2 linked regions of the Homo sapiens genome follow. The protein of the gene in region 1 purifies or fractionates together with the protein of each later gene. This does not show direct contact. Each region holds a gene or a part of one and is shown in the gene's direction. Other genes may lie near its edges.

Region 1 (5,523 bases):
AGGAGTTCAAGACCAGCCCGGGAAACATGGTGAAACACCAACTCTACTAAAAATACAAAAATTAGCTGGGCATGGTGGCTCACTCCTGTAATCCCAGCTACTCGGGAGGCTCAGGCACAAGAACCGCTTGAACCCAGGAGGCAGAGGTTGCAGGAAGAGGAGATTGCACCCCTGCACTGCAGCCTGGGCGACAGAGCGAGACTCTGCCTCAAAAAAAAAAAAAAAAAAAAAAAAAAATCTGCATTTCAACAGAATCCCCAGCTCCCTCCTACGCACCTTTAAGTTTAAGAAGTGGTAGTCAAAGCCAAGTGTTCTCAAGGTGTGGCTGGAGACCAGTAGCTGTCACATCATCTGGGAACCTAGAAATGCAAACTCAGGCCAGGTGCGATGGCTCACGCCTGTAATCCCAGCACTTTGGGAAGCCGAGGCGGGTGGATCACATGAGGTCAGGAGTTGGGGACCAGCCTGGCCAACATGGCGAAACCCTGTCTCTGCAAAAAGTAAAAAAATTAGCTGGGTGTGGTGGCATGTGCCTGTAATCCCAGCTACTCCAGAGGCTGAGGCAGGAGAATCACTTGAACCCAGGAGGTGGAGGTTGCAGTGAGCCGAGATCGCGCCACTGCACTCCAGCCTGGGTGACAGAGGAAGAAAAGAAAGAGAAAGAAAGAAAGAAAAGAAAAGAAAGAAAGGAAGGAAGGAAGGAAGGAAGGAAGGAAGGAAGGAAGGAAGGAAGGAAGGAAGGAAAGAAAATGCAAATTCTGGAGCCCTTACTCCAGCCCTTTGCAATCAGAAACTCCAATGGTGAGGCCCAGGAAGCTGTGTTTTAACAGGCTCTACAAGTGATTCGGATGCAGACTAAAGTTTGAGAATCACCGACCTCGTTCTTAAAAATTGTTTTAAAATTAACTTGTTTTTCCTTTAGTTGTTAGGAGTTAGGATCCACTTTGTCATGTGAGTTTCAGGGGGAAAAATATGACTTTCTTTTTGTTTCTTTCTCTTTTTGAAAGGTGATGATCCAATGCCCTTTGACATTAAAGCTGAGATGACACTGAAGACAAATTTTTTTGCCACTAGAAACATGTGCAACGAGTTACTGCCGATAATGAAACCTCATGGTAAGCCCAACGTGTGGACAGTCGGGTTGCATCCCTCAGTAAGAAGTGGGCTACAGGCTTCCCGGAGCAGGGCTACCCTGCAGAAATCACTCAGGGGTGCTATTTCTCTGAAGGGGGAAAAATAGAAAATTGCTTCATTTTCCCACAGTGTTTGGCTTCTCACTCCAACATTTTAGTTTAGTTTAGTTTAGTTTAGTTTAGTTTTGTTTTGTTTGGCAGTGGGGTGGGTGGTGGGAAGAAATTTTGCTCTTGTTGTGCAGGCTGTAGTGCAATGGTGTGATCTTGGCTCACTGCAACCTCCACCTCCCGGGGTCAAGCAATTCTCCTGCCTCAGCCTCCCGAGTAGCTGAGATTACAGGCACCCACTACCACACCCGGCTAATTTTTTATATTTTTAGTAGAGACGTGGTTTCACCATGTTGGCCAGGCTAGTCCTGAACTCCTGACCTTCAGGTGATCCACCCACCTTGGCCTCCCAAAGTGTTAGAATTACAGGCGTGAGCCACTATGCCCAGCCTTAGCTTTAAGTTCCAAAGATAAGTGTGACATATCACAATGCTTTTGGGATCCATGTCATGAACTCAATCCTAGAATGATAGAATGCTGTGAGTCCCCAAAGGCCGCTTGCCTCTGGTCAATCTCATGAGTCCTCCAGCCCTCCAAGGTGATGGGCCCACATCTAGCTCATCTCTGGACCTTGGTATCTGTTTTAGCATTACAACTTTTCCTATATTCCTTTCTTCTTATACCATACTTTCTCAAGTTGATTCAGAAAACCCAAAAGAAATTTTCTTTTCTTTTTTTTTCTTTTCTTTTTTTTTTTTTTTTTTTGAGACAGAGTCTCGCTCTGTCATCCAGGCTAGAGTACAGTGGCACAATTTCGGCTCACTGTAGTCTCCGCCTCCCAGGTTCAAGCGATTCTCCTGTCTCAGCCTCTGGAGTAGCTGGGATTACAGGTGTGCACCACCACGCCCAGCTCATTTTGTATTTTTAGTACAGATGGGATTTCACTATGTTGGCCAGGCTGGTCTCAAACTCCTGACCTCAAGTGATCCACCCACCTCTGCCTCCCAAAATGCTGGGATTACAGGTGTGAGCCACCATGCCCGAACGAGAAATTTTCTTTATTAGGAAATGTCTTGCCTATACCTGCAGGTATTCAATAAATGTTACTATTATACTTTTCCTACAAACATTGGAGTGCCTGCCATATTCCAGGCATTATGCTGGGATCTGGGTGTGCAATGGTGAGCATTATAGACAGGGACCATCTCATTGGTGGAGCTGAAACTCTAGTGGGGGAGATATCCATTAGCAAAGAATCTGAAGTGTGAAATGACAGCTGTGCTGGGGTACAGGGAAGCTTGCTTCCTTGAGGATTTTATTCCCCAAGAAGTTAACTGTGGATTCTTAGAACTGTGGTTTTTATTAAAAATGTGCTTGCTTTTTCTTTTTTTTTTTTTTTTTTTGACAGAGTTTCGCTCTGTTGCCCAGGCTGGAGTGCAGTGACAGGATCTCAGCTCACTGCAACCTCCACCTTCTGGGTTCAAGGGATTCTCCTGCCTTAGCCTCCTGAGTAGCTGGGACTACAGGCGTGTGCCGCTACGCCCGGCTAATTTTTATATTTTTAGTAGAGACAGGGCTTTGCCATGTTGGCCAGGCTGGTCTCGAACTCCTGACCTCAAGTGATTCATCTGCCTCAGCCTCCCAAAGTGCTGGGATTACAGGTGTGAGCTACTGCACCTGGCCAGAAGTGTGCTTTTCTTAATTTAACATTTCGAATATGGATTATTGGCCGGGTGTGGTGGCTCATGCCTGTAATCTCAGCACTTTGGGAGGTTGAGGCAGGAGGATCACTTGAGCCCACGAGTTTAAGACCAGGCTGAAAAATATGGCAAGACCCTCATCACTTTAAACAAACAAACAAAATTATCTCTGGATGCAAAACCTTTTTTTTTTTTTTTTTTTTTTCTGAGACAGAGTCTCCCTCCGTCGCCCAGACTGGAGTGCAGTGGCATGAGCTCAGCTCGCTGCAACCTCCGCCTCTCAGGTACGAGAGATTCTCCGCCCCAGCCTCTCAAGTAGCTGGGTTTACAGGCGAGCACCACCACGCCCAGCTAATTTTTTTGTATTTCTAGTAGAGACAGGGTTTCACCATGTTGGCCAGCTTGATCTCGAATTCCTGACCTCAGGTGATCCACCCGCCTTGGCCTCCCAAAATGCTAGGATTACAGGCTTGAGCCACCGCACTCAGACGCAAAAAGTTCTTAACCTAAGAAGGTGAATGGTGAGAGTTGCACTTGTACTCTGTCAGTTTCTGAGTGGGATGAGATCATAGAAAGCCTGCAGGGAGAACTGCAGGTGCTTTGAAGGGGATGGAGTTTCTAAATGCAAATCTGAGCCAATATAAACGCACATTTTAAAAACTCTCCTTTTTACACAGAAGGTAACATTTCATACAATGTTTGCCACTTTGCTTTTTTTACTCCTTATGTCTGGGGCTCTCTCCAGGTTTGGTCAGAAAGCTTTTATCTTTTTTGTGGCTATATAGGGACGCAGCCATTATAGGGATGTCTTTTACCCAGTGTTGGGAAGTTTTCTCCCGATAAATTTTTGAATGGGAACTTGAGAGCTGCAAGGTATTAAGACACCTTTAAAACTCCATCCCCTTCCAGAGCACCTGCAGTTCTCCCTGCAGGCTTTCTCTGATCCCATCCCACTAAAAAACTGAGCAAGTACAAGAGTACAAGTGCAATTCTCACCATTCACCTTTTTAGGTTAAGAAGTTTTTGTGGCCGGGCACAGTGGCTCACACCTGTAATCCTAGCACTTTGGGAGGCCAAGGCAGGCAGACCACGAGGTCAGGAGATCGAGACCATCCTGGCTAACACGGTGAAACCCCATCTCTACTAAAAATACAAAAAAATTAGCCAGGCATGGTGGTGGGCACCTGTAGTCCCAGCTAGTCGGGAGGCTGAGGCAGGAGAATGGCATGAACCCGGGAGGCGGAACTTGCAGTGAGCCCAGATCGCGCCACTGCACTCCAGCCTGGGCGACAGAGCCACACTCCATCTCAAAAAAAAAAAAAAAAAAAGAAAGAAAGAAAGAAAAGAAAATATCATAAGAATGGACTTAATCCTGAGCAACATATGGAGACCCCAGCTCTACACAAAAAATGAAAATTAAAAATTAGCTGGGCATAGTGGCATGTTCCAGCTTCTCGAGAGACTGAGGTGGGAGGATCGCTTGGGCCCAGGAGGTTGAGGCTGCAGTGAGCTATGATTGTGCCACTGTACTCTAGCCTGGGCGACAGAGCAAGTCCTTGTCTCAAAAAAAAAAAAAAATGCATTTAACGCATCTGACCTACCAAACACCATAGGTCAGCCTCGTCTAGCTTCAAGGTGCTTTGAACGCTTACATTAGCCTATAGTCTGGCAAAGTCATCTAACACAAAGCCTATTTTATCATAAAATGTTGAGTATCTTATGTAATTTATTGAATCTGTACTGAAAGTGAAATGCAGAATGGTTGTATGGGGCCTCCAAGTACAGATTCTGCAGAATGCATATCGCTTCCTCATCCATCAGTGAAGTCAGTAAGTCCTAAGTGGAACCATCAGAGGGCAGGGACCATCTATCTGTATTTGACTTGCTTATTTGTTCAAGGTTCTGAGTCAATAGGACAAGCAACTACTAAGCCACTAGAGGGCGCAACTTGCCTACTCTTTCTAGAGTAAGGCAGCAGGTGTTTCGGGACCGGTGGGGCCACCTGGACCTCAGTGGAGGGTGGTGTGGGTGCAGCCCTTCCCAGGGCTGATGACGCATCTGGCTGACGAGGCTGACTGTCAGCCTCTGGCCTCTCTCCCAGAGGTGTGCCCTCAGATCAAAGAGGACACCTCCTCCCCTTAAGAGGATTTATTTCCTCGAAGGCACAGCTTCTATGATCTGTGTTTTTCTTTCTTCCTTTCCCATTCACATTTAATTCCTTGTAGCCGCCAAGTTTCTGAGAACAAAGCTGTTTAGAAAGCAATGAAGAACACAACATCACTGATGTAGTATTCCTGGCCAAAATATTGATGTGACTCTCCTCATGAGAACAGACCAATTCACTTTGAGAGAAATACTACAAAATAATGGTCTACAGTCTTCAAAAAAGTCATTGCCAACTACCTTACATTAAAATATATGAAAGAGATGTGACAATTAAATGCAATCCATGGGCCAGGTGCGGTGACTCACGCCTGTAATCCCAGCACTTTGGGAGACCAAGGCGGGCGGATCATGAGGTCAGGAGATTGAGACTATCCTCGCTAACACGGTGAAACCCCGTCTCTACTAAAAATACAAGAAATTAGCCAGGCATGGTGGCAGGCGCCTGTAGTCCCAGCTACTTGGGAGACTGAGGCAGG
Region 2 (3,500 bases), on another chromosome or scaffold:
TGTAAATACATCTATAAAACATTAAAACAATAATAAGGTATATCCCACCTCCTCTCCAATCTTTCTCCCTTTCCCAGATGTAGTAACTGTTACCATACTGATGTTTATACTTTCCAAACTTTTACTTCACATACACATTCATATACTACAATGCCTTTGTTTGCAGTTCAGAATAATTCATTTTCTTATATTCTATTGTTGAAGTTCCACACATTTCTGCATATTTTATTTTTAACCTAGCTAGACAGTCTTACAAAGTGAACCTTTGTCCATAGCCCACATTAAACTATGAATAGATTTTGGAAAAAAAAAAAAAAAAACCATAGGGTCTATTAGGGCTAATTAAAAAGAATGATTTTTGATTGCAGGAGGCTTAAACAGTGCTTCCTATGCTTCTGAGACATTCCAGAGGGAGCATAAGAAACTGAAGGAGAATATAGGTTATCTGCCCTTGTAGCTGTCTGTCAGTCACTATTTATTAGAGCTGACTATGTTCTGGGTAGGAATGCTTTACATGTATTAGCTCATTTAATATTCACAGTAACCCTATAAGGTAAGAAACATTATTAAATGTGCAAAGTGTGACTTAGAGAGATTAAACCATTCGCCCAAGGTCACATAACTAAAAAGTAGCAGAGCTAAAATTTAAACCTTGTTCAACTCAAAGCTTGTATACGTAATCCAGACTTTTTGATTTCAGACCACTCTCCCCTTCTTTTCTTTTAGTTTCCACAACAGACTCTTCTGTCCCCCTACCCCCCTCCCCCAACCAAGTGAAATCTTTATGCCACTACCAAAAACCTATAAAAGCGGCCAAGCCTCTTCCAGCTCCTTTCTAGTCCTTAATACTGACAGTAATGAGAGGCTGCCCTGGGGAACCCAGATTCTAGGAACATAATCTGAAGAAAGACAGTCCGGATGCTAGTTCTACAAAATCCTTTGGATTTATGCTTCTCATCCTCATATTTTAAAAGCTCAACTAAAGCAGCTTAATTTCATTTAGCAGAGAATTGCTGAACTAAACTGGATAAGAGTTCTACTTTCATTCTTTAAGTGTTCATGATAAATTAGCATTAGATGTATATGGATTATATTTTACTCTTAAGAGTCTCCAAAAATTCATTTAAGATGAATGGAAAAATGTCCTTATCAGTTTTATTCTCCCAATCCAAGAGTTTTAAAAGTTGTCAGTCCAGCTAAAGGTAATCCATTTTCATGGATTTAAAGATTTGTTCTGTTTGTGGCTCAGATTCTTACATAATGATTTAGAAAACGCAAACAAATGACATTGTCTCCAACTCGATAATCCTTTTTGGAAATACACAAGGTATGTGAAAAAAACTTCCATAGCCATGATTACATTACCTTTTGTAAAATTCGAAAGGCTATCTAACGCTGCAGAATTTTGGATGTGGAATGAACCTCAGAAATTCTCCCTCTGACTTCCCTCTTTCAAAGATGAGGAAACTGAGTACCTGTGGTAAATCACCTGTCAAATTAGAATGAGGTTAAGCCAGGACTCATGTTTTGGGTTTTCACTTCCAGATCTCGTGTGCTTTCCTTTTTGCTAAGTTCTCAACATCAAACTAGTCAAGTCTTTCATGCCTCATTCATTCATTTTTCAACAAATAGAGTAGGAACAAAATAACCATGTTTTATCTTCATGAAACTAACGGCATAGTGACTACCAACTTTGACAAGACCGTTCCATTTTGACTCTGTATTTTTGTTGTTGTTATTTTTGTTTGTTTGTTTGGTTGGTTGGTTGTTTGCAGAGACAAGGTCTCACTATGTTGCCCTGGCTGGTCTCGAGTTTCTGGGCTCAAGGGAGCGTCCCAAAGTGTTGACATTTCAGGTGTGAGCCACCCACTGTGCCCAGCCTTGACTCTCTATTTTATGATTATATGCATTTGAACAATTCCTTGCATTATTCTTTAATAACAGTAGCTTTTCTAATAACTATGACTTAAATGGCATTAATATTGCTGGGCATGGTTCTAAGAGCTTTAAGTACATTACACATTTAAATCATCATACACAGGCTGGGCGCGTTGGCTCACGCCTGTAATGCCAGAACTTTGGGAGGGTTAGGCAGGCAGATCACTTAAAGTCAGGAGTTCGAGACCAACCTGGCCAACGTGGTGAAACCCTGTCTCTACTAAAAATACAAAAATGAACCAGGTGTGATGGCAGGCGCCCATAATCCCAGCTACTCAGGAGGCTGAAGCAGGAGAATCGCTTGAACCAGGGAGGCGGAGGTTGTAGTGAGCTGAGGTCTCGCCACTGCACTCCAGCTGGGATGACAGAGTGAGACTCCATCTCAAGGAAAAAAAAAAATTATCATATATAAAAATACCTGAGATAGGTACTTTTATTATTGTGATTTCATAGATGAAGAAACTGAGGTGTACAGAAGTTGAAGAACTTGCCCCAAGTCACATAGCTAGTTAGTGACAGGATCAGGGTTTGGATCCCAGCACCAGGCTCCAGAGTCTGTGTCCTTAATCTCTATACATCCCGAATGCCTGTCAACATTAAATAATCCAGGGTGAAGTTCAGAGAAGTGAAATGATATGACTTCTCTGGCCTCCTCCTTTCTCTAATAACTGCAGGAACAAAGGAAAGGTTTTTAGTCTGGTTACAATGTTTACTCTAGCAGAGCTGAGAAGTTAAATTAAGCTCCTCTGAAGTGCTTATTCTTCACAACTATTTCATAAACAGCATCCCTTTACATTTGTTTTCCTTTTACTGTTCTATTTTGCCTGCTTAAAGTATCCAAATTGGAATAACAAAGGCCCTTTTCTTATGGGAAACTTTCGATGTCTTCTCAGAGGGATAACATTATTGAGCAGCACCGTTCAAAGCACTTTACTCAGGTAACTCTCACAATCCTTCATTATGCCCATTTTATAGCCAAGGAAACTGAGGGTCAGAGGTTAACTGATTTGTTAAAAATCGTAGACCTAGGAAGAGGTATAGCCAGAATTCAAATTCAGGTAGTTCGTTTACCAGCAGCAGTCTTTCCATTTGCGTCACTGGAGTGCACTGCGATGATGCCAATACTGTTGCAGGATTGGCTCTACTGAATTGGAAACTACTTGTGAAGACAACCCAAAGAGGTGTTTTGTTGTTGTTGTTGTTGATGTTGTTATAGCCTTAGCTATGAAGAGGTAGATTCTCCAAGTCACTACTGAGAGCGGTAGGAATGCTTTCTAACAAATCTGAAGTCTGCTTTAGATTTTTTCAAGATATGTTTGATCATGCTTCCCGGAACACGGCGGAGACTCCAGTGGCTGCTACTGTGCTTTCTTCGGAATGGCTAAAATCTAAGCTGTTTGAGTTCCTCTTGAGCCTGCGCCCACAACACAGCACATGGTCCCAGTGACACTGCATTGTTACATTAGTACTGCTTATTCCTCTGTAGCTCCCACAGGGCAGGAAGGTTTTTTGTTTTGTTGTTTTTTCATACAGTCTCACTCTGTCACCCAGGCTGGAGTGCA

What was found. The genes of interacting proteins can lie anywhere in the genome.
Region 2: the proteins of CBR3 (region 1) and SGK1 purify together in Homo sapiens (co-immunoprecipitation; one large-scale study listed by IntAct). This does not show direct contact.

What each region holds. Positions count from the first base shown.
Region 1 is NC_000021.9:36,136,818-36,142,340, forward strand, and holds part of CBR3 (carbonyl reductase [NADPH] 3), read left to right. Parts: intron 1-1,007; coding exon 1,008-1,115; intron 1,116-4,578; exon of another isoform or gene 4,579-5,106; coding exon of another isoform or gene 5,107-5,147; exon of another isoform or gene 5,148-5,327; intron 5,328-5,523. UniProt on the Homo sapiens protein: Catalyzes the NADPH-dependent reduction of carbonyl compounds to their corresponding alcohols. Has low NADPH-dependent oxidoreductase activity.
Region 2 is NC_000006.12:134,311,613-134,315,112, reverse strand, and holds part of SGK1 (serine/threonine-protein kinase Sgk1), read left to right. Parts: intron 1-3,500. UniProt on the Homo sapiens protein: Serine/threonine-protein kinase which is involved in the regulation of a wide variety of ion channels, membrane transporters, cellular enzymes, transcription factors, neuronal excitability, cell growth, proliferation, survival, migration and apoptosis.